7 linked regions of the Homo sapiens genome follow. The protein of the gene in region 2 purifies or fractionates together with the protein of the main gene of each other region. This does not show direct contact. Each region holds a gene or a part of one and is shown on either strand. Other genes may lie near its edges.

Region 1 (3,500 bases), on a different chromosome or scaffold from region 2:
AGCAGCATGCACTCGATTCGCAGCTGGTAGCTGGGGATGGCACAGACAGGGATCAGTGGCCTGCACCCCCCACCTGTCCCTGCCAGAGGGGCACTCAGCACAGGGCTCTGGCTTGGGTGGTGGGCAAAGGGAGGGGGTTTCCACCGCCTGCCCCATCCAACAGGCACCCTCCCGGGCCTGCGCAGAGCAGGATCCAATTCCTCCAGAGGCCTCCAGCCCCACACTTTGAGGGGAAGGACTGGGGGTGGGGCTCGAGTGATGTTTAGAAGCCCAACCGCTGCAATGCTGCTCCTGGAGCCCGGGGCAGCCATTGGCACAGCCTCTTCTCCTCCCTGGCTGGGCCCTGCTCCCTATTCCTGCTCTCCTCCCACCTGGGGCCCAGGCCCTGGGGTCTGAGGGCGGCCATGCTCACCAGGGAATGGCCAGCAGGAGGAGGTAGAAGTGGTCGGCGCTGGCCAGCTTGGCTCGCTCCTCTGTGAATGCCCGCAGGTTTTCAATCTGCCAGGAGGAGAACGGCATGTGGGATCCCCCCATGCCAGCTTCCCGCCCTCCCGGACTGCCCGCCGGGCTCAGCCCCTCCAGTGCCCATCATGGCTCCCTGTGGCTCACGGTTCAGGGCAGAGGTAGGGCTGGGATGCCTCCCTTCTCTGTCTCCCTGCTGGGAGCCCCCGGGACAGCCTCTCCCTTGGTTGGTGGCACTAACTGGGGGTGGGGTGTGGGGGTGGTCCTCTTACCTCGTGCTTCTCGGGAAGGAGCTTAAGGAGTTGTTTGAGAACCTCCACATCAAACTTGGTGGTATCTCCAGCCCGGATCATAGCAGCGACCTCCTCGTTGGAGCTGGAGCAGGGAGAGGACCGGGCAGGGGTGAGTGAATCATGAGTCACCCCCACCCAGCCTCTTTGGGACCCCACCTGGCAGGGTTTCCCCACGTAGTCATGGGGTGGCCAGGGCAGGGGGGACACAGAACAGTCGAGTTGTTGCCCACGGTCACGCGGTGAAGGGGACCCAGGCTGACTCCCACCCTCGCTACCCTCCATGGGCCCTGCTCAGGAGATGCAGGATGGGTCGGGTCCAGCCAGCTCCCTCGGGCCAGTGCTGGACACCCGCAGCAGGAAAGGACTCGGGGGCTGAGAGTCAGGGCCCACTGGTTTAGCCACTACTTGTCTGTGGCCTTGTGGGGGGAGGTCCCAGCGCTCTGTCCCTGGGAGCCTGGACAGCCCCTAGCTGGGGCAGCATGGGGCTATTACCCGCCTACAATCCTGCCTAGGGGATGCAGTGTGCACTTCCCATGGCGGCCTGCAGAGGGCACTGCTGGGCCCAAGTCAGAAGGCTCAGGTGGAGGCGAGGCTCCGTGGCCTGGGATGGGGGCTACCTCCCTCACTCACCACTTAAATTGCTTCAGGAAGATGTTGAGGTTCAGGCTCTTCTTGGCATCGAGGAAAGTGATCTAGAAAACCCCCCACCCAACAGGCTGGTACCGGAGGGTGGCCAGGCAGGCGGCCCCGGTCTGAGTCCCCTCCCCGTCCCCACCTCCTTGGGCTCCTTCCTGGCCCGGGGGGCCACCATGGTGGGCTCCTTGGGCTTGGCTGCAGGGAAGGAGAATAGTCGCTCGATGCTGGAGAAGTCGGGCTCCACAGCCTCGGCGTCGGGGCTGCTCAGGGACGCCCACATAGAGTTGTGCTCTGTCGGGTGGGGACACGGCCAGTGAGGCTCTCGCAGCCCCGGGGCCTGGCGATCCAGCAGGCAGGGGCTGGAGCCTCCCAGAGGGTCTAAAGGATGTCCTGCCTGGGGCCCAGTAGGTCCAGGTCCAGCGTACAGCAGGCACCCTACCTCCCTACCTGAGCACCTGTAGCAGGGCCCCAGGGCACCATGGCACCCCAGATGCACTGGCTCACGGGAGCATGTGGAGGGGGGTCCTCAGAGGTAGCCCCTGCCCTGCTCCTCCCCCGTCCCCACCTCAACCACAGGCGCCGAGCCCAGAGCAAGGGCCAGGCTGCCCTGGCCACGCACGGGCAGGACGCGCACACAAGTTCCATGTGCCACCTGCCCCTCTCCCCAGCAGAGACCAGCCCCCGTCCTAGGGGAAGCTTCCCTTGGGGGTCTGGGGACCCTCACCACGTGCCACGTTGGATGGCAGCTTCTGCCAGTTCAGCTTCTTCATGCGCAGTGTGGGTGGGTTCACCCGCCGATGGCTGGGGACCCATGCTGAGCCCAAGCCATGGTCCACCTGGGCCACGATGACCTCCTCCATGCCTCCCGCCACGGGGGGGCTGCAGGTGCAGGGCAGTAGTGGAGGTGGGGGTGGAGGAGGGCCCCAGCCCATACCAGGCAGCAGGGGTGGGGGTGGGGGCGGGCATCCCAAGCCCGGGAGTGGTGGAGGTGGTGGGGGCAGGAACTCACAGGAGCCTGGCAGGGGTGGTGGTAGAGGAGGTGCTGGGGGGGCCATGGCCCCCAGGCCTGGCAGGGGTGGGGGCGGGGGTGCTGTTGGGAGGGCCTTAGCCCCCACACTGGGCAGGGGGGGTGGTGGGGGAGGGGGAGGGGGCTCGGCACTGGAACCAGGGAGCAGGGGTGGGGGTGGGGGTGGGGGTGGGGTGGACGCCTGCTGCTCCAGGGCTCTGGGCTGCGAAACTTTCAGGATGCTCTCACTCTGGGCGTGGTCCACGGGCTCGCAGGCAGCAGCTGCTGCTGGCTGCTGGCCCTCCACGCTGGGCTTGGGGGTTGTAGTGTTTTGCGGGGAGCTGCCCCTCTGGCTCTGGTCTAGGTTGGCCTGGACGCTTTTATGGGCCTTGACCAGGGGGCTCGGTCTGGGTCGCCCCTTGACAGACAGGAGCCGCTCAACCACTTCCTCCAGGGTGCATTCCTGGGCTGCAGTAGGGGATGTCCAGGGTCAAGGGAGAAGGGAGCCGGAGAGGGAGGGATGGGGGCTTGAGGAAGAGGCAGGAAAAAGCGGCCACCTCCCCTGGGCAGAGGATGGGTTGGGGCCAAGGGCAGGCTCCCCCCCCCATGGTCTAAGACCTCAGTGTCTGCCCACCAGGCTGTGCCTACGCCCCTGCCCCGCCCCCTCACCATCGCTGGCCAGGAGCACGGCCCGGTTCACGAGGCTCTCCAGGGCCTCCCAGAGCAGCTGGCTGGAGCGGAGGGTGGGCTCCAGGTGCAGGAGGCCCTGCAGCACCGACAGGAGCTGGGCAGACACCGGGGAGCAGCTCACCTGGACGGGCGAGTGTGGGGTGCAGGTCAGCAGCCGGCCCCTCCCTGGTGGACTAAGGACTGTGGCCTGTCTGCCAGGGTGTCCAGCCCCATCACCCCCTCTATTCCCACGGATCCCTAGAGATGAGAGTTTCAGCGACTGTGGTACTGGTGACATGTGGGACTGTCCTGTGCATTATGGGATGTTAAACAGAACCACTGGTCTCTACCTACTCAATGCCAACAGCACCCCCTGCCCAGCCGTGGCAGCCAAAAATGTCTTCAGATGTTGCCAGATGCCACCTGGGGACACA
Region 2 (3,500 bases):
CGAATTATATCTCACTAAAGCTGTTATATGTTAGAGAAAGGGGGAAGGAATGAATAAGGAAACCAAAGTTGTCCTGCATTTCCACAGAAAGGTAATCCTGTCTTTGAAAATCTTAGCTTTTTTCTGCTTCTATTTTAGTTAAGCTTTAGGATTCAAGACTCCTCACTGGTAAGTCCCCAGTTGTCTTTTCTCCATCTCTAATCTTTGTCTTTACTAACAAGGGTGATCTACCTAAGGGAGACAGCATTCACTAGTTACAACTCAATCTCTGAACAAAAAACAATATGCACACTATGATTACAATCATATAAAAATACGTATGAGAATGAATCAGGCCTGGAAAGAAATGAGGAAAAGTAAAAATAGCTACATAAGAATAATGAGGTTGGGGTGACATTCTTTTTAAAACTTAGTGTATTATCAGCAAATAAACTTAGAAGAAAAAAATAACCAAACTGTCTCCCTAAAAATTGTTCCAAGGCAAATTCAGAAATTGCATCACAAAGGATTGGAATAGACAATGGAGTAGAAACATGGAAACTAAGGCTGGGTGTGGTGGCTCACGCCTGTAATCCCAGCACTTTGGGATGCCAAGGTGAGCAGTTTGCTTGAGCTCAGGAGTTCAAGGACAGCCTGGGAAACATGATGAAACTCCATCTCTACTAAACATACAAAAATTAGCCAGTTATGGTGGTGCATGCCTGTAGTCCCAGCTATTAATACTTGAGAGGCTGAGGCTGACGGACTGCTTGAGCCCAGGAGGTCGAGGCTGCAGTGAGCCAAGATCACACTACTGCACTCCAAACTGGGTGACAAATTGAGACCTTGTCTCAAAACAAAACAAAACAGAAAAAGATGGAAACTAAAACACATGGCTTATATATAATTGCATCTATTTAGATCAAGCCAATAAACAAGAAATATTAAGCTCCCTATAGCTTGCTATGTTGGAGTCCTAGGTGATCTTTCCTTGCTTACATCTCCTTCATTCTAAACATCTGCCTATTTTATAAGGAAGATGCAATTGCTTCTAAAATGAGGTTGTCTCCATTAACTCGACCCACAGAAAAGCCATTTAAAATTCAAATTCATACTTAACATTCTTCCATCAGGAAATACATGGTAACTAGCCCTGGATCAATCTCAGTCAAGTCCCAATCTGGAAGAGGAGCATAAACATTTAATTTTTAAGGTCAGGGTCCGTGCTTAAGAAACTGACAATATAAGCACAACTAAAATGCAAAGTAGCTCAGCTGACACGCTAAGATGCCAAGTCAATCTAATGGAGAAAAACAAACAAAAAAGAGATGTGTTCTGTTTTGTCTTGAGACAGGGTCTTACTCTGGCCCTCAGGCTGGAGTGCAGTGGCATGATAACAACTCACTGTAGCCTCCACCTCCCTCAGATGATCCTCCTGCCTCAGCCCCCCAAGTAGCTGGGATTATAGGTGCATGCCAGTACTTCCGGCTAATTTTTGTATTTTTAGTAGAAATGTGGTTTTGTCATGTTGCCCAGACTGGTCTCAAACTCCTGGGCTCAAATGATCTGCCTGCCTTGGTCTCCCAAAGCGCTGGGATTACAGGTGTGAGCCACTGTGCCTGGCCGAGAAAGGGAAGTTTTTCTTAAACCTATGTTGCTGGAACAACTAGATATCTATATAGGTGGAAAATGAACCCAAACTCCTATCTTATATCATAACACAATAATAATTACTTTGAGATCAATCACAGACTCAAATGAAAAACTTAGAAAAATAAAGTTTCTAGAAGAAAAAGCTTTCTTTGCAATCCTGGGCACTGGTAAAAATTTATTGGTCAGGACAAAAAACACTAGCCATAATACAAAAAATTGATAAAACAGACTTTATAAAAATTAAAAATTTCTGCTCATCACAATATCATTGAGAAAGTAGACAAGGGACAGACTGTATAAAAAAAAACTGTCAACACATCTATCTCTATATGTGACAAAGAACTTGTACCTTGAATATATAAAGAGCTCCTACAAACAATAAAAAGATGAATGACCCAATGAAAGACTAGGTAAGACTTGAACAAACAATTCACAAAAAAAGATACTGCATAGCCAATTAACATATGATAAAGCACTCAACATTCTTAATCATCAGAAAAATGTAAATTAAAACCATAATGAGGTACAACCATACATCCTGTAGTGTGACTAAAATTGAAAAGGCTGACAATACTAAACATTGGCAACACTAAAAATACGGAGCAAGTAGAACTCAGTATAAACCACTTTGGAGAACTGTTTGGCAGATTTTTAATAAAGTTAAACATACACATACCCTATGACTCAGTAACTCTGCTCCTAGGTATTTATCAAGAAACTTGTAAAAGTATGTTCATAACAATCTTATTCCAAATATCCATCAAGGAGAAAATATAAATTGGGGTACATTCATACAATGGAATACTATTCAACAACTTAAAAGGACAAACCACTGATACTTGCCAACAACATAGATGAATCTTTCTTACATGAAAGAAGCCAAACACAAAAAAAGCACATGCTGTATGATTCCATTTATGTGAAGTCCAAGACCAGTCAAAAAATCTCTGTAGTGTCAGAAATCTATGGAGTCAGGAAGTGATTGCCTTTGGAGGAAGGTGGGTGAGGGAACTTTCTAGGGTGACTTAAAAAAAATGTTTTCTATCTGATTTTGGTAGAAGTTACAGTGTATACAATTGTCAGAACTCCTTGAACTGGATATTATGTGCATTTTATTGAATGTTAATTATACATCAATAAAAATACAAAGTAGCAATGTGCTTCAAGATACAGACTAACAATTTTGTTTCAAATGAAATTCAAGACTACACAAATGCATCTTCAGTTACACAGCATTTTCAATCATGTGCCATTCTGATTTATTCACACTTCTATTCTTTGATCATTGTAAATAAGCTAATGGATTACAGACACATATAGATAACAGAATGTATGTTCACATACATAATTTTTTATAAACACCAAATTAAATTTGATTGTTTACAATTTAAATAAGCACTTAATGGACCAGTTATAGGCCCAGTAGAATATTCTATTGTCTATACCATTTTTCTCTCCATATATTTGTGATTTTAAAGGATCTGACATAAAACTGCATGTAAATCAAATGTCAGCAAGGACTATCAATGACCAAGGGATGATAGCGCTTTAGCCACACGGCCTAGAGAATAATGCCCTCCTCATCTACTCTAATCGAGAGAGCTCATGCATATTAAAGAGCAACTGAAAAGTGTGAAGAGTAGTTTGCCAGCTACAACACAGCCTAAATATCAGTATACATCAGACTGACACCAGAAAACCTTACTAAAAGCCTTTTTTTCCTCTACTGTTTACTGGATCCTCCTCTTTATCTTTCTCCCTCCCTCTATCCAGGTATACTTTTATCCGCAAAGCCTCTCATCCTCCCTGTGATATTGCTCAGATATAATTGATTTTCTCTTTTGTTTTAGTTTTTGAGACAGGGTCTT
Region 3 (3,500 bases), on a different chromosome or scaffold from region 2:
TCAACTTTTAAGCAGAAGAACTGAATTCTGATTTCCAAAGCAAACACTCTTTCCAAAAGAGGCAGACAGACAGATAGGCAGACAGAGAGACAGAAGGGCAAAGTGATGCAGAGCATGGGCTCTGGAGCCAGACAGCTGGGGTTCAAACCTCGGCCCTGCCACTGCCACCTGTGTGACTTTAGGATGCCATGTGCCCTTCCAGTGTCTTCAATTGTACAAAAAGGGGGATGGTAATACTTGCCGTAGGAGGGCCGCTATATTAGACAAGCTACTCCAGTCAAAGCGCCAGCCCCATACCCCACACAGCAAGCCCTCCATGCACACCAGCTGCTGCTGCATTACCCTATGTCACCCCTGCAAGGGCAAAACACCAGCACCTTGGGCTAGTGTGTCAGTTTCCTATTGCTGCTGCAACAAGTTACCACCAAGTTATGACTCAAGATAGCATAAATCATTATCTTACAGCTCTGGAGGTCAGGAGTCTGAAGGGGTTGGCACGGCTGCATTCTTTCTGGACGCTCTAGGGGAGAGTCCATGTCTTCGTCTTCTCTGGCTTCTCAAGGCTGCCTGCATCCCTCCCACCTCTGATTCTGTCATCACTTCTTCTCTGAACTTGATCCTCCAGCCTCCCTCTTAGGAGGACCCCTGTTATATCAAGCTCACCTGGCTCACCCAGGATACTCTTCCCATCCTACAGTTCTTAATTTAATTGCATCTGCAAAGTCCCTTTTGCCATATAAGGTAACACACTCACAGATCCCAGGGCTGAGGGTATCTTTAGGGGTCACTGATCTGCCTGCCACAGTTAGTATCTGCTGTGGTCTGAGGACGTCTGTGCTCCCTCGGGTCTTCGGCATGTGCAGTTCCTCAAGGAAGCTGTGGGCTCTCTCAAAATGCTCCAGTACCCAAGCCCCCGACACCCAGGTAGGGAGCTGCAGACACTGACCTGCTCATCGATCTTCCGCTGCAGCTGGACCACCTTGTTCTCCATGCCCACGTTGAGACGTTTCAGATGCTCTGCTGAGCGGGCCTCAATCCTGAGGGCCTTCAGCTCCCGCCTGGCCTTGAGCATCCGGAAGGCACACTGGATGACAATGGCTGCATCCCGCAGCCGCTGGAAGTGCCTGCGTGCCATCCAGCCCCGCACGTGCTTCTGGATGGTGGTGGCCTTGTGCTCCATGAGGACCTGGCGGGAAACAAGGATACACATCTTGTGGGTTTGCACTGCAGGACAGGAGTGAAGGAAGCATACATCACTGCCTGTGGAGGGAAGAGGCCAGGGCAGCCTTGGTTCTAGGAGTTACACAGACAATGTGCCCCCTAAGATCTAAGGCTTTGGTGGTTGTTTTATAACACATTTCAGCGAGGTTCTGCGCCTACATATCCACAGGGAATCAGCTGTCAAACTCTTTTCAGCTTTGTTTTACTTTTTGTTTTATGGGTTAGGAAACCACAGTCTGAAAACCTCAAGGTTGTAGGGGCCTAATGATCATCCACTTGCTCTCTACCCATTTACCAGGTGGAGGTCCCCTCCTGGTGGCACTGAGCTGGAAGTGAGATACTTCAGTGAGTGTCCACAGCAGGCTAATGGCTTATAATTACAAACTTGGTGTGTAATTCACTGTTTTTTTTTTTCTACCAAGTTAAAAAACCACTCAGGATATGAAAGCATCATCAGTGTGCTCGCCCTAATACCTGGTAAAATAAATGTTTGTGGAATAAATGAGTAAACAAGCAAACAGGCTGAGCAATGAACAGTGCCACAGCCATGAGTGACAGAGCTGGGAGCCACATCAGTGCTCACTCTTTGCACATGCTGCCCCTGCTGAGAAACTCCCAAACATCACCTGCCCCTTCCATGGGAGCAGCACACCAACGCCACCCATCACCCAAGAACACTCACAGAACCTTCTCCCAATGGCCTGGGTTTCTCTACATACTACACCAGGGTGTGCTCCACCCTGACCACATTTTTATTATTATCAATTTCGTGCTTTACTTTTATTATTTAGAAAATCACACCTTCTGTGATCATAGAAGAGACAGATGTTCATTTAATGAAAAAGAAAACCATTTTAGACATTTCCTTCCAATTCGTGTTTCAAGTCAGCTCTGTGCTTCAGATGTGTTGGTGTTACCTGGTTGAACAGATGTGTCCTGATGTGGGGCTCCTGAACCCAAGGGTTTTGGCTTCACTGGAACAACACAAAGAGCAAGAACCTGGCAGGGAAGAGGTCGGGGCCTCCCTCCTGACCTCACCATGTTGGGCTTCAAGCTCCTGATCCGTTAAGTGGAGGAGTTAGACCTGATGATGCCCAATACCACCGCCTGCCCTCAAGTGTGAATGAGCCCTAGGTGGGTCACCTGGCCCTGCTGTTGGCTGGCCTGGGCCCTCAGGCAGGTGACCTGGCTTCTCTGAGCAACTCAGGTATCAGAAGGGGTGTGAAAACTGCCATGATTGGATGCTGGGCCCCTTCAAAACTCATGTTGAAATCTGATCCCCTATGTTGGAGATGGAGTCTAACAGGAGATGTTTGAGTCATAGAGGCAGATCCCTCATGAACAAATAAATGCCCTTCTTCAAGGGTGATTTCTCACTGTTAGTTCTCATTAGAGCTGCTTGTTAAAAGAGCCACTCTTGTGCTTCCTCTCTCACCATGCGACCTCTGCACACACCGGCTTCCACCTCCCACCATGAGTGGAAGCAGCCTGAGGCCCTCTCCAGAAGCAGATGTTCAATTGTGAACTTTCTGGCCACCAGAATTGTGAGCCAAATAAACCTCTTTTCTTCATAAATCACCCAGCCTCAGATATTGTTATAGCAACATTTAATGGACTAAGACAACAGTATGCACACCCTTCCTACCTTGTGGGACTTCAGAAAGGATTTGGTGAGAGCAGAGATGTGAAAGCATTTAGAAAAAAGTTGGGAGTGCTTGACAGAGGTTCACGTTGGCAGTAATTCATCTGTTGCCACTTTAGTTCTGAATCTGCAGCCCTGAGGCCCTCAGAGTGGCTACTCACCTGGCGGTAGGTTCTCCGCACAAACATGGCCCGGGTGAAGGCCTGGATAACAACGGCAGCTCTGCGGACCCTCTGGTAGGCCTGGCGGGCCCTCTGCATGCGGTAATGTTTCTGGAGCACCACAGCCGCTCTGATCCTCCGCAGGTGCTCAGCCAGCCTGGGGAGCAAGAGGAAACAGGCAGTGTCAGGGAGAGAGTATTGACCGCCCTGATGCAGAGAACCCTGAGACATCTGCAAATGCAAACCTCTCCCTCTGTGGCCCTACCTGGACACACCCAGGGGAAACCAACTCTCTTCACCCCTAACAAATGTAGCAATGCCTTAGGCATTTGACGTTGTGGCTAGAAAAGCAGTGTTAGTTCTTTCCTTATGGTCTCGAAAGGCTTCCCACAAGCTTCAAACTCAGTCAGAGTCTGACTTCCTCTATGATCCTTATCTGAGCACTCTTCTACCTCACTGTGCCTGGGCAGTCCTCA
Region 4 (3,500 bases), 690 kb from region 2:
GCTGGGGAGAAAAGGACAAACTCCCTAGGAAGATAAATAGAATAAGTCTAGGAAGACCACTGTAGGATGGAGGACATGCCTTCAGGTGAGGTGGAAGAAGTGGAATTGCTCACATAATATTTTGTCTATGGCCAGACCTTACTCCACAGATCAGAAGTTTAGACTTCCAACAGTACCTCATACTTCACTGGGAATTGCCTGAAGTGGAGACAAATACATCCAAGTCTATCCTCTAGTGGACCACGTACTCCTGAATTCTCCCAATGGAGGCAAAATTCATCATAAAATGAAAAACAGAGAAACTAAATTACCTTCTGAGGTAAGAAGTAAGGCGGATCATCTCTCCTCTCCCACATTCTCCCATACACGAGTTAGCATTCCCTGTCACCCCTCCCCTGAGGTTACAGTTAAATCCCTGGAAGCCCATTCATAAAGCTTCCTCCAGTTCTCTTTCATTATTTAAAAAAAAAAAAAAAAAGCTAAAAGTACCAGGAAGATCTAAAATATGTGGCAGCAGCAATTCTCATTAGAATCAGAATCTCTCTGTAATCTTTTCTGGACAATACACAAAACTTTCACACTTCAAGAAACAGTAACAAATTTCAAGAGGAAATAATGGGCATTTTGCTTTGTCAAGCTATGTAAAGAAGTATTTCTTAGTAGCATTCAAGTTCCACAGAGGCAGTCAAAATTTGTGATGAAACAGGAATTAATTTTCAGTTTCCAAGTCTGGAGCTACTGGCATTATTTCATACTACTCCTGCTCCTTCCCATCCTATATGTAATCCATCTCGGAGAGACCTGTCTCTCGGATTTATCCTCTTCTTTCCCACACCTTCTGCCCCTGCCTCAGTCCACCAGACCTTCACCACTTCACATTTTGTTTCCTGAAAGTTTCCTGGTCTCCCTGGTTCCCAGTTCTATTACTCATCCTGTTCAACATGCCTGAAAATGTGTTTACTTGTTTAACCACATCTTTATACCCTGCTTCGTCCCTACAAGTGGACTGATCATGCCAAACCATTATTTTCATTCCATCCCTCCCCTGCTTAAGTATTCATTCAACAAATATTCAATGAGCAGCTATTCTGTGTAACACTGGGCTAGGCTCTACAGGAGGTAAACAAAACAGCATGTCAGGGGGCTTAGAGTATCGTGGGAGTGGTAAACATATACACAAATACAGTAACCGTAATAAGACAGAAACATGTTTGGGACATTAAGACAGAGAAAAAGAGTACTAGTGGGAGTTCCAAATCTGAGCTATCAGCTGGATGTCAACTGAAATTAGAATTGATATAGAAGAAGTCGAATGTGAAAGACAAGAAAAAAGATACGGAGGTTTCCAAGCTGCGGAACTAGGAGAACAGCAAGTCGTTAACAGGCCTAGGAACACCAGGAGGAAATTCAAATGGAAAGGGCATGACAGGAGACTTGAGGACAGCTAACATCCTTGCCAAACTCCAAGTCAGGGCACATGATCAGAGATGAGATTTCTGTTCCTCTTTAAGATGTTGGAAGCAGTCTGAGAAATACAGTCTCGACATGAAAATATTAGAATTTCCAAGATCAGTAGTTTGAAGAGACAGTGCCATAGAATATAAAAGTGGATCTATCCCAGAAAAAATCTAGGCCATGTGGCTCCTGTATATATGAGAGGATATGTTGGGAATGGAAAGTTACACATATACAATCTACTGACCTTAAGAGCTGTTTCATCTAGGCAAGTTAACATGCTTTGCAAATGTGGAATTTTAGATTGTCTTTGCACTGTTACAATACTCAGCATCTCAGCACACATGGGAACCTCCTAATCAAACAGCTTCAGGTAAAAACAAAACAAAACACAAAAGTAAACAAAAAAATTAAAACTTTTTTAAAATTAAAAATAAGCCAGGCATGGTGGCTCATGTCTGTAATCTCAACACTTTGAGTGGCCGAGGCAGGAGAATCATTTGACCTGAGGAGTTAGAGATCAGCCTGGGCAACACAGCAAGATCCTGTCTCTGTAAAAAGTACAAAAATTAGCTGGGTTTGGTAGCACATGCCTGTAGATTCAGCTACCCAGGAAGGTGAGGTGGGAGGATGGCTTGCACCTGGGAGGTCGATACTGCAATGAGCCATGTTCACACCACTACACCTCAGCCTGGACAACAGAGTGAGACCCTGAACCTAAATAAATAAATAAATAAATAAATAAATAAATAAATAAAATAGGCTGGGTGTGGTGGCTCATGCCTGTAATCCCACACTATGGGAGGTGGAAGCAGGAGGATCACTTGAGTCCAGGAGTTTAAGACCAGCCTGGGCAACATACTGAGACTATCTCTAGAAGAAATTTAAAAATTAGCTGGGTGCATAGCTGTGGTCCCAGCTACTCACGAGGCTGAGGTGGGAGGACAGCTTGAGCCCAGGAGTTAAAGGCTACAGTGAGCCATGTTCATTTCACTGCACTCCAGCCTGGGTGACACAGTGAGACCCTGTCTCAAAAAAAATAAAAAATTAAAAAAAAAAAAACCCAGCTTCAAGTAATCTTGACCATCCTATAGCATGGATACCATGGTGCTATCCATGGTGTCTGGGAACATGATGACAGGAGGAATAGCATGCCATTCATTATAATGTTCCCGATAATCCTTCTAGGTCTAATTGATAAACCCTACTCCACAAATGTAGAATTGCTTCTAGTTACCAAAAGCACCTATGGATGATGTATGATATAGATATCCACTGGCAAGTCAAGACTAGCAAATATTTTCAAAATCAGAAGCAATGAGATATCATAGTTTCCTTTAATTCTTTTGGGAGCAAGGCAGGTTGACCACAAACACATCAACATACTACTCTGTGAATAAACCAAAAACCATTGAATAGTACACTTTAAATGGTGAATTATATGGTATAAGACACATATCTCAATAAAGCTGTTATTTTTAAAAATCAACAAAACATGTTTTAACCAAAATATTCGTTTCCAGACAAGTATCCCAAGAACCTAGCTATTGTCCTTAAAATGTTTATACTGCTGGAAAAACTTACAAAATGGAAGCCTTGTTAAATTGCTGTGACAAAACCATTACCATTCTGGCTAAAAAGAAGAAATTGAACAGTCTCTTGTCCTTCACTGTAATAGGAACTGATCTGTATCACACATTAAAATCTGCCCTTAAGATCTGAATGACATTTTTTTAAAGAGCACTTTTCAGATTTAACCACAATGTTAAATACCATAATTATGGCATATCACTAATACATCTTTCCTTGTAATCTATCCTAGAACTTCCTTCCTATAATCCTCTGCAAGGGGAAGATCCTTGTGCTTATCCACTGATAATACTTCTAATGATTTTCCTATTCCTCTAGTAATTACAATAGTAGTTTTTATCTCTGGAATCAGCCCAACCTTCCCCATGTCCCAACCCATTCCCTAACTTCTACTAATAAATATCATACCAGCTGTCTGCCTGCTGTTGAGGTAACAGCAGGTTATTTATGCCCCT
Region 5 (3,048 bases), on a different chromosome or scaffold from region 2:
AAAACTTCCCCAAAGGTAACTTTTCAAGGAATAATGGCTAGCTACTTGAAAGATACTTTCATCACAGAGTTTATATTTTTTTCTACTTTAGAAATAACTGTTTTACTGTGTCCTGTAAGAGTCATCTTTAAAACTGACCTTGTTTTCAATGGAGTTGAAAATTGGAATGTAACAGTCTCATCCTTTCCTCCTTGTCTAGTTTTGAAAGGAATCTGTTTAATCCTGTTTACAATGTTCTGCCATAGCTTTGACTGACTTTACTATTATTGTAAAGGCAGAAATAAAGCTTTATGCCAAGAGCTAATAATTTAAAAGAAAAAACATCACCTCAGTATCAGTCCCTTTGCATTTAGTGCAGGGTAAGTTTAGTGTTGGGCCTTAAGAAAGATGGAAGGAGGTAGGCCAGCTCAAGCCTCAAGCTGGCAGGGCCGAGAGGCTGGGCTTTGATCTACCAACCACATGTCCTGGCTCTGTGGACAGCGAGGCGAGGAAGCTGTGAGCCCAGCATGAACCTTGTGCCTGAAACGTCTGCCTCTGTGCTTGGGCTGCCTCCTCTGAGACCTCTGGGTGTGAATTTTCAGTGAGCTCAAGGCAGTGCACATAACAGCTGCTACAGTTTTCCATACTTAACTCTGAACATACTATAGACTACCCATTTATATCCTGTTTGGTTTAGTTAAAATAGTAAATAAGTAGATGATTCCTGGTTATCTCAGACATTCCTGGAAATATTTACTATGATGTTGGTCTGGTTATCTCCAGCTCCTTGGAATCCCAATAAATAATCGCACAAATACAGGGAATTGTTGGGGAGGGAGAAGCTTGTTTGATAAATACATAAATGATGAGAAAACTAGTCAAAATTTAGTTTTTAGGATGTGTCATGGGATTAAGATAAATTTACTTGAATTTCCCGTAGTCTGACCTGCCATCTACAGTTAGCTAATGTTCATTGGGAATCAGATGAATACCCTATTTTTCAAGAATTCTAGAAGGGTGGTTAAGAGTTTTTAGTATTATTTCTTTTTTTTTTTTCAAATGGACAGTCTCTTATTCATCCTCCTCCTCCTCCTCCTCCTCCCCTCCTTCTTCCTTTTCATCTTGTTCATCTTCATCTTCCTCTTCCACCTTTTTCTGGGCAACTTTAGCAGGACCCTTTTCTCCATCAAACTTTCCTTTCAACTTATAGTCAGAAACATCCTTCTCATACTTTTCCTTCAGCTTTGCCGCCTTAGTGGTGTAAGGCTGCTTTTCACTGTCATTTAAGTTATTCCGCATCTCACCCAGCTTTTTTGCCATGTCTCCAATAGAGATGCCAGGGTTTATGAATTTGATCTTGGGGTGGAATTCTGAACAGAGCAGGAAGAATCCAGACGGTGGCTTTTTCGGGGCATTAGGATCCTTCTTCTTGCCTCCCTTAGCTGGTCCATAATCCTTCATTTCCCAGTGGTAGTGTACTTTATCCACCTTTGCCATTTCATCAAATTTAGACTTCTCTTTCCCAGACATTGTCTTCCACCTCTCAGAGCACTTCTTGGAAAATTCTGCAAAATTGACAGAGACCGCTGGGCTCTTCTTCTTATGTTCTTCTCTGCACGTCTGCACAAAAAGGCATAAGCAGACATCTTGCCCTTTGGTTTCTTGGGGTCACCTTTAGCCATCCTGACTGTATTGTTCGATAGTCTGGGCAGTGCCTGTCTTAATAAGACATGTTTTCTGCTTTCTTTCCTTTTCTTTTTTTGTTTTTTGAGACAGAGTTTCGCTTTTGTCACCCTGGCTAGAGTGCAGTGGTGCCATCTCAGCTCACTGCAACCTTCACCTCCCGGGTTCAAGCGATTCTCCCGCCTCAGCCTCCAGAGAAGTGGGGATTACAGGGGCCCACCACCATGCCTGGCTATTTTTTTTTTTTTTTTTTAGTAGAGACTGGGTTTCGCCAAACTCCTGACCTCAGGTGATCTGCCTGCCTCAGCCTCCCAAAGTGCTGGGATTACAGGCGTGAGCCACCGCACTAGGCCTCCTACTTTCTTTTCTAAGTAATATTTTTTAGCCTTGTCACCAATAAGAAATTTTTTTAGAAGGACATATGATTAAATCACTCATCCATTCCATGATGTTTTGACAACAAATTTACTTTTTTTTATACATATTTTCTTAATATTGCAGCAGACCTATAAGTAACAATGCTGGGCTTCTGTTTTGTTTTCACCCCAGGTTCTCCTCAAAATCTAAGTCTATGGACAAATCAGATGAAGAACTCCAGTTTCCCAAAGAGTTGATGGAGGACTGGAGCACCATGGAGGTGTGTGTGGACTGCAAGAAGTTCATTTCGGAAATCATCAGTTCAAGCCGGCGCAGTCTGGTGTTGGCCAACAAAAGGGCCCGATTGAAAAGGAAAACGCAGTCTTTCTACATGTCCTCGCCAGGCCCCTCGGAGTACTGCCCTTCAGAGAGGACGATCAGTGAGATCTGAGCCTCGTGCCTTTCAGCTGCTTTTGTGCTACGAGTCAGCGTCCGTGCGCGAGGACACTGAGCCGGGCTGGCTCTCCTTTCTGTGGTTTTATTTAATGGGCTTGAATTTGCATTAGATCAGATTTTTGCCGCATCACATTGTTCCACAGACTGAATGCTGTGTTCGTATCGATTGATGAAACGTGACAGGTCCGCCAATTGCTCGTTTGCACTGAGAGAGGACAACAGTTTGAAACTTACTTTTGTGTGTGTGTGGCTTTGGAAGCCAGTAGCTACTTCCTTAGTTCAGTTCTTTACTGTTCCTCGAATAATCTCCTGACTAAGGCAAAAAAAAAAAGCTTCTCCTACGAGAATCAGTCTAACAGAGATGCCGATGTCAGCACAGCCCTAAGCAGTAAGTCATATTGGCATTTCCACGTGACTGTGTTTCTATCCCGTGTACAGAGAGATCCAGAGCCCTACACTCCACGACCTGGGGGCTCACAGCACAGAACCTAGAAGCACCTGCTGACACTCTTCAACTGATTTTTAAATGTTGTTGCTTGGAGATAAAAATTACATAAGGGACTTTTTGCCTGC
Region 6 (4,288 bases), on a different chromosome or scaffold from region 2:
CAGGATCTCACTCCATTGTCCAGCCTGCTCCCCACTCGCCGCCCCGCCCCGTAGCTGGGATTACAGGTGTGTGCCACCATGCTCCGCTAATTTTTTTATTTTGTAGAAAGTTCTCCCAGGTTGCACAGGCTGGTCTCCGACTCCTGAGCTCAACTGCTCCTCCGGCCTTGGCTTCCCTGAGTGCTGAGGTTACAGGTGTAAGCCACTGTGCTCCGCAGGGTGCTTTTAGACAGAGAGGCCAGGAAAGGCTCCTTGGGGAGACCACGGGATGAAAAGGAGGAGGAAGAGCACTGTGGAGCAGCATCCCAGCCAGAGGCCCTGAGCCGGGAAAGCGCTCCACTCATGGGAGGCTGGGCTGCAGGGAAGTGAGCCCCAGGGCCACCTGGGGACTTAGGAAACCTTCTAGGTGGGAGCAGGGAGCACCCAAGATCTGCCAGCCACGAGTAAGGACTCACATTTTGCATATAGACTGGTCTGCCCCCCCTTCAGTTAATGAGAAAGCAGGGGATCAGAGGGAGGAAGGCTGCGCAGGCCTCTGGATACCTCATCCAATGACAAGATCGCAAGGGGAGCGTCACCCCCAACGCTATCAGGCTCGCCCGATCTGGCCTCTTGTTGGTCTTTTATTCGAGTCATTGAAACCATATGAAACTGCCACTTTTATAGGTCAGCCCATCATACCAACCAAGATCTTAGAGAGTGGAGGTGAAGTTGGGCAGATAAGGGACCTCTGGCTGACTTGCTCTGGGCCCCGGCGTGGCCGGCAGGACCTGCATATCTGCCCGCCAGCCCGCACTGGAGTGGCAGGGTTGTGCCACAGTAGCGCCCAGTGAATCAGGTTGGCAAACTTAAGCGAGCATTCACCTAGAGCGAGTGAGTTGTTAGCAAAGCGAGGCCGCGCTCCAGCCCGCACTGTTTCTGATTCCGTGGGACCTGGTGGGCCCCAGAAATCTGCATTTCTAACAAGTTCCCAGGTGTTCCTGACGCTCCCGGTCGGGACTCCCACTTTGCGACCCTACGCACTAGACATTTGCTGCACGGATAAAGGTCAGAGAGCGGTGCCGGACACTCACTTCTCACCCTCCAACGTCAGTCCTCCCGGGCTGGTCCGCCCACCTCGCCCTCGCACGGCCTCCAGGCTCCAGGTGGTTCCCCTCCCCCAACTCCGCCAGGAGGCGCCGGCCCCGGGATCCCCCACTCCGCCCAGAGAGGGTCGCGCTCCCCCCAGGGGTGGAGGAGCACGGGGAGAAGCCCTCTGCCGCACCCGCGGGTGTCGGTGCAGGGCCCAGGTGCCGGAGGATTCCTTCCCCGGACGCTCGCCGCGGGCCGGGTCGGGACTCTGAGCAGGCGGGGCGGGGCGGGGCGGGGGCGGCGCTCCGGTGGGCGCGGCAGAGCAGCCGGGGCGGGGGCGCGGCGCACCTTGCTCCCGGCGCCCCCGCCCCGCGCCGCCGCCAGCCCCTCCCTGCGCTCCCGGCGCCCCCGCCCGCTAGAGACGATTCCAGCCCCTTCCGTCCGCCGCGCTCCGCCGCTGTCCTCCGCCGGCCCGCGTGGGAGGACGATGGGTCAGCGCGGAAAAAGTGAATGAGGGCGGCAGCGGTGGCGGCGGTAGCCAGCGCCTGACTCGGCGGGCCCGGAGCACCGCCCGCGTCCCGGCCCCCGGCACCATGGACGCGCCGCGCGCCTCGGCGGCCAAGCCCCCGACCGGGTAAGCGGCCCCGCGGTCGGGCGGGGTGGAGAGGGGGCTTCCCTGGGCTCGGACGCCCGCGTCCGCACCGCGCGCTCCCGGGCAGGGCGCCCTCTCTGCCGCCCCAGCGGGTGCTGGTGGTAGTGGTGGAGCAGGTGGTGCGGTGCTGGTGTTGGGTGCTGGTGTTGGGTGGTGGTGCGTGCTGTGTACTTTGGGCACCCGGGTCGTTGCCCAGGTAACCGTGTCGGGCCGGGGCCGGAGCGCACTTTTCGCGCGGGGTGGTTTGTATGCAGGCGTCCTTATGGGGGTCCCCGCCAGCACAGCCCCCACTCAGCTCCGAGCTTTCCTCAGGCCCCCCAAGTGTTTGCCGTAGGGGTGGAGCGGGGAGCGAGGGGACGCCCGGCCTTTGACTCCGGCCTCTTCCCTGCGGGCTTGCCCCTGGCCGGTTCCCATCAAGTCTTCCCTCTCCCGGCCTCGGCGGCAGCCCCAGGATCGGCTCTCCCGGCAGCGTGGAGGGGAGGGCTCCCCGGCTTCGCAGCCGCCCGGGCCCCGCGTTCTCGGAAGGTGTTCGGATTGCCCGGAGGGTTTCATGGCAGCAGCTCTCCCTCCCTGCCTTTATTCCAGGGTCTCCCCTGGCAGTGGAAGGGGCGTCCTAGTGGGGCCAGGCCTGAGGCGCAGACATCCGTAGCGGACCCGCGAGTCTGGCGGCCCATCCCTGTCTTCGCGATTCCGCTTTTGCCCAAACCTCTCCCGGTTTCTGTTTGCTATCCCCACACCTTGCGTGCAGGGATTACACGTCACATTCAGGATTTGACTCTCAGAAAGAGTAATTTCCCTCAAACAGGACGAGCAGCCCTGCTCATTATTCAGACCCCGAGCCAGGTGCGCCGTGCTCATCCCGGCCAGCGGTGCAGGCTGGGCCGCGGGGTAGCGCGCAGTCCCGGTGGACTTTGTAGTTTTCAGCGCGGCGCGCCGGGGACCTTCGAACTCGCTCGCTCGCCTGGAGCAAATGTGTATGAGTCTTGCAAATGGAATGAGGGTTGGGGTGAGCCCTGCACCTGCTTACTGAATGGGCCCACTTTCTGCTATGGCAACTGGACTTGAAGGAGGCAGCTTTGGGGACAACAAATCTTTTTTTCTGTTACAGTTGTGTCCCACTGACTCACCCTGCCCATGTGCCCATAGGCGGGCGTGTTGCCCAAGTGTGTAAAAGACTTTCAGTCGGGCTCTTTTTAAAATTTTAAAGTTTTCCTTTAATGCCAGGAAAAGGTGAGCCAGGTTAGCAAATCAAATAATCCTGAAGCTGAGGAATGTTAAAAAGAAGTTTTCTTTCTCTCTCTCTTTTTTTTTTTTTGCAGTGCACTTACTGGTGGTTATATAATTCTCTTTGAACAAACAAATTCCCCAGAAAGAAAGTAAATGTGGGAAATCCTTTTTCATGGTAATAGGCATCCCAAAATAACAGGGAAATGTGAAACAGAGGTATCTTTAAATCTGTGGCTTTCATAGCCTATTAAATGAGCCTATTTAAGGACACTGAATTATTTTGTCACTATCACCTTATAAATAAATATGAAGACAGAGAGAACATTTAAAAGGCCGGCAAAACTGTATCCAAAGAGTATCTGTAAGATCCTTGAAGGGAGTCTAATGATAGAAGTGAAAGGACTTACCCTAAGAGCGTGGCACTCTTTTCAGCCTGGTACTGTGTGGCAAGAGGTAGTCGAGGGCTGGCCTTCTCAGGGCTTCCCAGAGCTCTGATTGGCTTTCATATTTGAATTGCAAAGTAAAACTAAGGATTTTTGCTATGGAAAACATGAAATTATTCCTGATGCATTCAGTTCTTTCCCTCACTCATATCCAGTGTCTAATTTACTTGTCCGAACATCTTTGTCCAAGAAATGTAGACATATTATTTTTAACTTCTATTGTTCTCACTTTGTCATTTGTTAATACTTTCAGTGAAGAAGCATCAAGAAAATGTTAATATCCTTATATTTTTTCAGACAAGAATTACGTGTTTAATAAGCAATTTTGTGTTCAAATCTGAGGAGATAAATGGTGTTAGGTCTTCGAATATTTTATATAATTTAGGTGTATGCTTGCTAATTATAAAGGTTAGATATTGCTGTGAAATTTGTGGCTTTAGTACATTATTGGTGGCAGGCAGATTCTGTTGGCTCTTCACTGAGATTACTCCTCTGTTCCCTGAGATTAAGGCAGTGTTTGCAGTGTGCTTGAGGGAAATTTGTTTTCCATCTGATTCTGCAACCGTTTATTATAAAATCAAACTTTCAGTAAGCCTCTGTCTTCCCACATGATAACAAACTGATGTGGTGAAGCTGTTGCTGTTGCTGAAACTACCACTCCTCCTTGTGTTGTATAGAAACAAGCTAGACTGGGTGCAGTGAATTAACGAGATTTCACCCTGTGGCCTACAAACGCTCTTCTAGAAGATTACTGAAGGGAGATAGGTTGGTGAATGTAAACTCACTGACTCTGTGTCTGGCTAAATTATTAACAGGTAGTTATTAGTTATCTTTGTGAAAAACACAAATATACGTTTTTACTTGGATTGAAATTGTATGTTTTTTACTAGGAATT
Region 7 (3,500 bases), on a different chromosome or scaffold from region 2:
TGGCTAATTTTTGTATTTTTAGTAGAGATGGGGTTTTGCCATGTTGGCCAGGCTGGTCTTGAACTCCTGACCTCAGGTGATCTGCCCGCCTTGGCCTCCCAAATTGCTGGGATTACAGGTGAGAGCCACCGCACCTGACCAAGATGGAGTCTCTTAGTGAGTTTCGGGGAGCCATTCCTTCTCCTGGAAGCTGCCCCAACTGCCTGAGGGTTAAGGTCATGTTGTCCCCCCACCCCCCACAGGGCTGTATCTGGGCTGGCTGTGGCTCCTCGGGGTCTCAGGGTTAGACAGCCTGGCTGGAGGGCTGGGACTGGGGCTGCACACATGGGTGTCATGCGTGTCCATGTGCTTCTGTGTACACTTTGATACATCCTGTTGCCTGCACACACGTCTCAGCCAAGCTCTGCACTTGCCTGCCTGTGTGCGTGTTAGCAAGCCGGGGACTATATCTCTGTGTGTGTTTGTGTATCTAAACATGCGTGTCCATTTGTGTTTGAGCAACTGAGCATGTGTTCATGTATGAGGGTGTTTGAATTTCTGCTCCTCTGTCACACATGCGTGTTGTGTGTTACATTCACACATGCTGGATTGAGCTGTGTGTGTGTGTGTGTGTGTGTGAATGGGCATAGTGGTCATTGCACAGTGGGGGCATTTGTCTGTGTTCTTTTTTCTGTGTATATGACTGTGCTGAGTGTGTCCAGGCCAGCCCAGAGCTCGGCCATCCTGCGGGGCAGGGGGCAGATGGAGGCTATTCACTGTGGCTGGCCTGGCTTATGCCAGAGCCTGCCCATCTTCTGGTGGGTTGTCCCATCCCTGCCCACCCCGCCCCATCACCAGACCTATCCCAGCCAGCAGGCCACTCGCCTGCCACCTCTGCTGGCTAAATTTGGGAGCTTGTGTTCAGTGGCTGTCTCAGGTTCCCAGTCACATGGGGGGCTGTATTTAACCTGGTTCCCAGCTCAGCCACCAGACCCTGTGGGACAGAGCAGGCCCCATACTCGTCTCTGTCCACTCTGCCCACTCATCCCCCACCATGTTTCTTGTTCTTATAGCCACGGAAGAGCTGAAGGAATTCTTTGCCAAGGCACGGGCTGGCTCTGTGCGGCTCATCAAGGTTGTGATTGAGGACGGTGAGTGCCCCTCACAGGCCAGGGTATAGGCTTGGGGGTGGACTCTGCTGCCTCTGTGGGTGGGGGAAGGAGGATGTTGGCCCCTGGCCTGCCGGGACCTCAATTTCCCACTCTGGAAATGGGTGTGAGGCCATCCTGACAAAGGAGAGCCTCACAGGGCAGCATCAGAGGTGGGCGCAATTGTCACCTCTGTTATGCAGAGCAGGAAGCCGAAGCTGGGGTCAGCAAATAGAGCCCTGTCCTGGGGTCCTGCCACCTCCCAGAGGCTGCATGGATATTCAGATGGGCCTGGCCAGGATGCCGAGCTGGGCTGGGCAGAGGGGCAGGGGATAAGTGAATCCAGCACTGCCCCTTGTGGCTGGTGCCACCCGCCTCATTTGTTGGTGGCCTGGCCTGGCTCAGCTGCTGTCCGAGGGGAGACCTAAGGAGATCCTGCACCCTTCTCTTGGAAGTGCCCCCATGATGGGGAGAAGGGATGAGTGTCTGGCTCATCTGAGAGTAGGATGGGAGGGTTCTAGGCTTGGCTGGGCTTTGGCCTTGCCCCTGAGGACCTGGGAGCTGTATAGAGGGCAGTGCTGGGGACACTGGGACTTGAGCTGAGGCCTGAAGTGGGGAGGGTTTGGGGAGGCAGAGGATTAAACTGAGGAGGATTGGGAGGTCAGAGGCCAGAGAACATTTTTTCACCTTTCCTCCATGCCAATGGACTGTCCCTTTGGGTGAGGGGTACAGACTTTGGGACTGGGGTGGGCCAGGCTCCCCAGAGGTCCTCCCAGCTCTTCTCATTAGCCATTCAGCAGCAGGCACTTTGGATGGCTGCCTGAATGGGCCTGGTGCTCAGCTGGCTTTCCACGCGTTGTGTTGGCTCAAAGCAGGATCTGCCATTCCAGGTTTTAGGGCCTTGGCAGTGCTTTGCCCAGGGAGTCCAAATTCTGATGCCCTCAGAGACTGGGCAGGGGTCACTGTGGCAGAATATTAGTGATGGCTTCCTGGAGTGGCAGGCCACAGCCACCCCACCCTTAAAAAGGCAGTTGTACTCATTGACCCCAGTCCTCGGCCCTCCCTGTTGCCTCCCAGACAAGATGTCCCTGCAGATTTTTTTTTTTTTTTTTTTTTTTGAGACGGAGTTTCGCTCTGTCACCCAGGCTGGAGTGTAGTGGTGTGATCTCAGCTTACTGCAAGCTCCGCCTCCCGGGTTCACGCCATTCTCCTGCCTCAGCCTCCCGAGTAGCTGGGACTACAGGCGACCACCACTGCGCCCGGCTAATTTTGTATTTTTAGTAGAGACGGGGTTTCACCATGGTCTCAATCTCCTGACTTCGTGATCCGCCCACCTCGGCCTCCCAAAGTGCTGGGATTACGGGCATAAGCCACCGTGCCCAGCCGTCCCTGAAGATTTTAAGCAGGAGGAATCTCTGGATTGACTTTTATCTCAGTTCTGCATGACAGTTGTTGGGGTACCTGGGACTGCCCAGGAGGGTCCAGGCCCCCGATGGGCAGCCACTGTCCATCTCCAATTGAGGATGGCTCCAGTGTGGCCAGAGGGCCTGATTTTTCTAGAGAGGCTGAGAATTCTACTTCTTATGTAAAATTTCCCAGTTTGAAAATGTTAGCAACAAATTAAGCAATGTTGACAGTGCTGTAGGGGCCAACACAGGCCGTGACTACTCAAAGTCACTGTGACTGTGATCCTGTCTGAGTTCTGGGTGGGCAGGTGAGGAGGCCGAGGCCTCAGAGGGCCTGGTCTGTTGGGGCGTCCAGGCATCGGGGCCCCTGCCCAGATCAGGAGAGTCTGGTGGACTGACACCAGGACCCCCAGCCAGGCTGACTGCCCCTTTGCCCCAGTTATTGCTCCAGGCTAGACCTGTGTATACCCAGGCTGGTGTCTGGTGCCCAGATGAGGTCCCAGTCTACAAGTGCAGCTGGATGCCCCATTTCAGCCAAGGAGCTAGCAGGCCTGTGGGGCCTAGGCACTTAGATGGTGGCTGCTTTGGATCTGCGACATTTTCTTTCTTTTTTTGAGACGGAGTTTCGCTCTTGTTGCCCAGGCTGGAGTGCAATGGCGCCATCTCCTGCTCACCACAACCTCCGCCTCCTGGGTTCAAGCGATTCTCCCACCTCAGCCTCCCGAGCAGCTGGGATTACAGGCCACTACACCCAGCTAATTTTGTATTTTTAGTAGAGACGGGGTTTCTCCATGTTGGTCAGGGTGGTCTCGAACTCCCAACCTCAGGCGATCCGCCTGCCTCTGCCTCCCAAAGTGCTGGGATTATAGGCGTGAGCCACCGCGCCCGGCAAGGATCTGTGACATTTTCGAGGGGACTGCAGCTGGCAGGTAGCCGCAGGATGTCTGTTTATCCAGGGTCTGGTAGG

The links.
Region 1: the proteins of TMOD3 (region 2) and INF2 purify together in Homo sapiens (affinity purification with mass spectrometry; 2 studies listed by BioGRID and IntAct, with this or other methods). This does not show direct contact.
Region 3: the proteins of TMOD3 (region 2) and MYO5B purify together in Homo sapiens (affinity purification with mass spectrometry; 2 studies listed by BioGRID and IntAct, with this or other methods). This does not show direct contact.
Region 4: the proteins of TMOD3 (region 2) and MYO5A purify together in Homo sapiens (affinity purification with mass spectrometry; 2 studies listed by BioGRID and IntAct, with this or other methods). This does not show direct contact.
Region 5: the proteins of TMOD3 (region 2) and SPIRE1 purify together in Homo sapiens (affinity purification with mass spectrometry; 2 studies listed by BioGRID and IntAct, with this or other methods). This does not show direct contact.
Region 6: the proteins of TMOD3 (region 2) and COBL purify together in Homo sapiens (affinity purification with mass spectrometry; 2 studies listed by BioGRID and IntAct, with this or other methods). This does not show direct contact.
Region 7: the proteins of TMOD3 (region 2) and TWF2 purify together in Homo sapiens (affinity purification with mass spectrometry; 2 studies listed by BioGRID and IntAct, with this or other methods). This does not show direct contact.

The regions. Positions count from the first base shown.
Region 1 is NC_000014.9:104,706,618-104,710,117, reverse strand, and holds part of INF2 (inverted formin-2), read right to left. Parts: intron 3,209-3,500; coding exon 3,067-3,208; intron 2,866-3,066; coding exon 2,116-2,865; intron 1,683-2,115; coding exon 1,531-1,682; intron 1,448-1,530; coding exon 1,386-1,447; intron 838-1,385; coding exon 735-837; intron 499-734; coding exon 413-498; intron 31-412; coding exon 1-30.
Region 2 is NC_000015.10:51,832,653-51,836,152, reverse strand, and holds part of TMOD3 (tropomodulin-3), read right to left. Parts: intron 1-3,500. UniProt on the Homo sapiens protein: Blocks the elongation and depolymerization of the actin filaments at the pointed end. The Tmod/TM complex contributes to the formation of the short actin protofilament, which in turn defines the geometry of the membrane skeleton.
Region 3 is NC_000018.10:49,901,648-49,905,147, forward strand, and holds part of MYO5B (unconventional myosin-Vb), read right to left. Parts: intron 3,182-3,500; coding exon 3,025-3,181; intron 1,187-3,024; coding exon 947-1,186; intron 1-946. UniProt on the Homo sapiens protein: May be involved in vesicular trafficking via its association with the CART complex. The CART complex is necessary for efficient transferrin receptor recycling but not for EGFR degradation.
Region 4 is NC_000015.10:52,522,381-52,525,880, forward strand, and holds part of MYO5A (unconventional myosin-Va), read right to left. Parts: intron 1,823-3,500; exon of another isoform or gene 1,802-1,822; coding exon of another isoform or gene 1,703-1,801; intron 1-1,702. UniProt on the Homo sapiens protein: Processive actin-based motor that can move in large steps approximating the 36-nm pseudo-repeat of the actin filament. Can hydrolyze ATP in the presence of actin, which is essential for its function as a motor protein. Involved in melanosome transport.
Region 5 is NC_000018.10:12,449,060-12,452,107, reverse strand, and holds part of SPIRE1 (protein spire homolog 1), read left to right. Parts: intron 1-2,211; coding exon 2,212-2,470; 3' UTR 2,471-3,048.
Region 6 is NC_000007.14:51,314,010-51,318,297, reverse strand, and holds the start of COBL (protein cordon-bleu), read left to right. Parts: upstream 1-1,488; 5' UTR 1,489-1,664; coding exon 1,665-1,705; intron 1,706-4,288.
Region 7 is NC_000003.12:52,232,659-52,236,158, reverse strand, and holds part of TWF2 (twinfilin-2), read left to right. Parts: intron 1-1,052; coding exon 1,053-1,130; intron 1,131-3,500. UniProt on the Homo sapiens protein: Actin-binding protein involved in motile and morphological processes. Inhibits actin polymerization, likely by sequestering G-actin. By capping the barbed ends of filaments, it also regulates motility.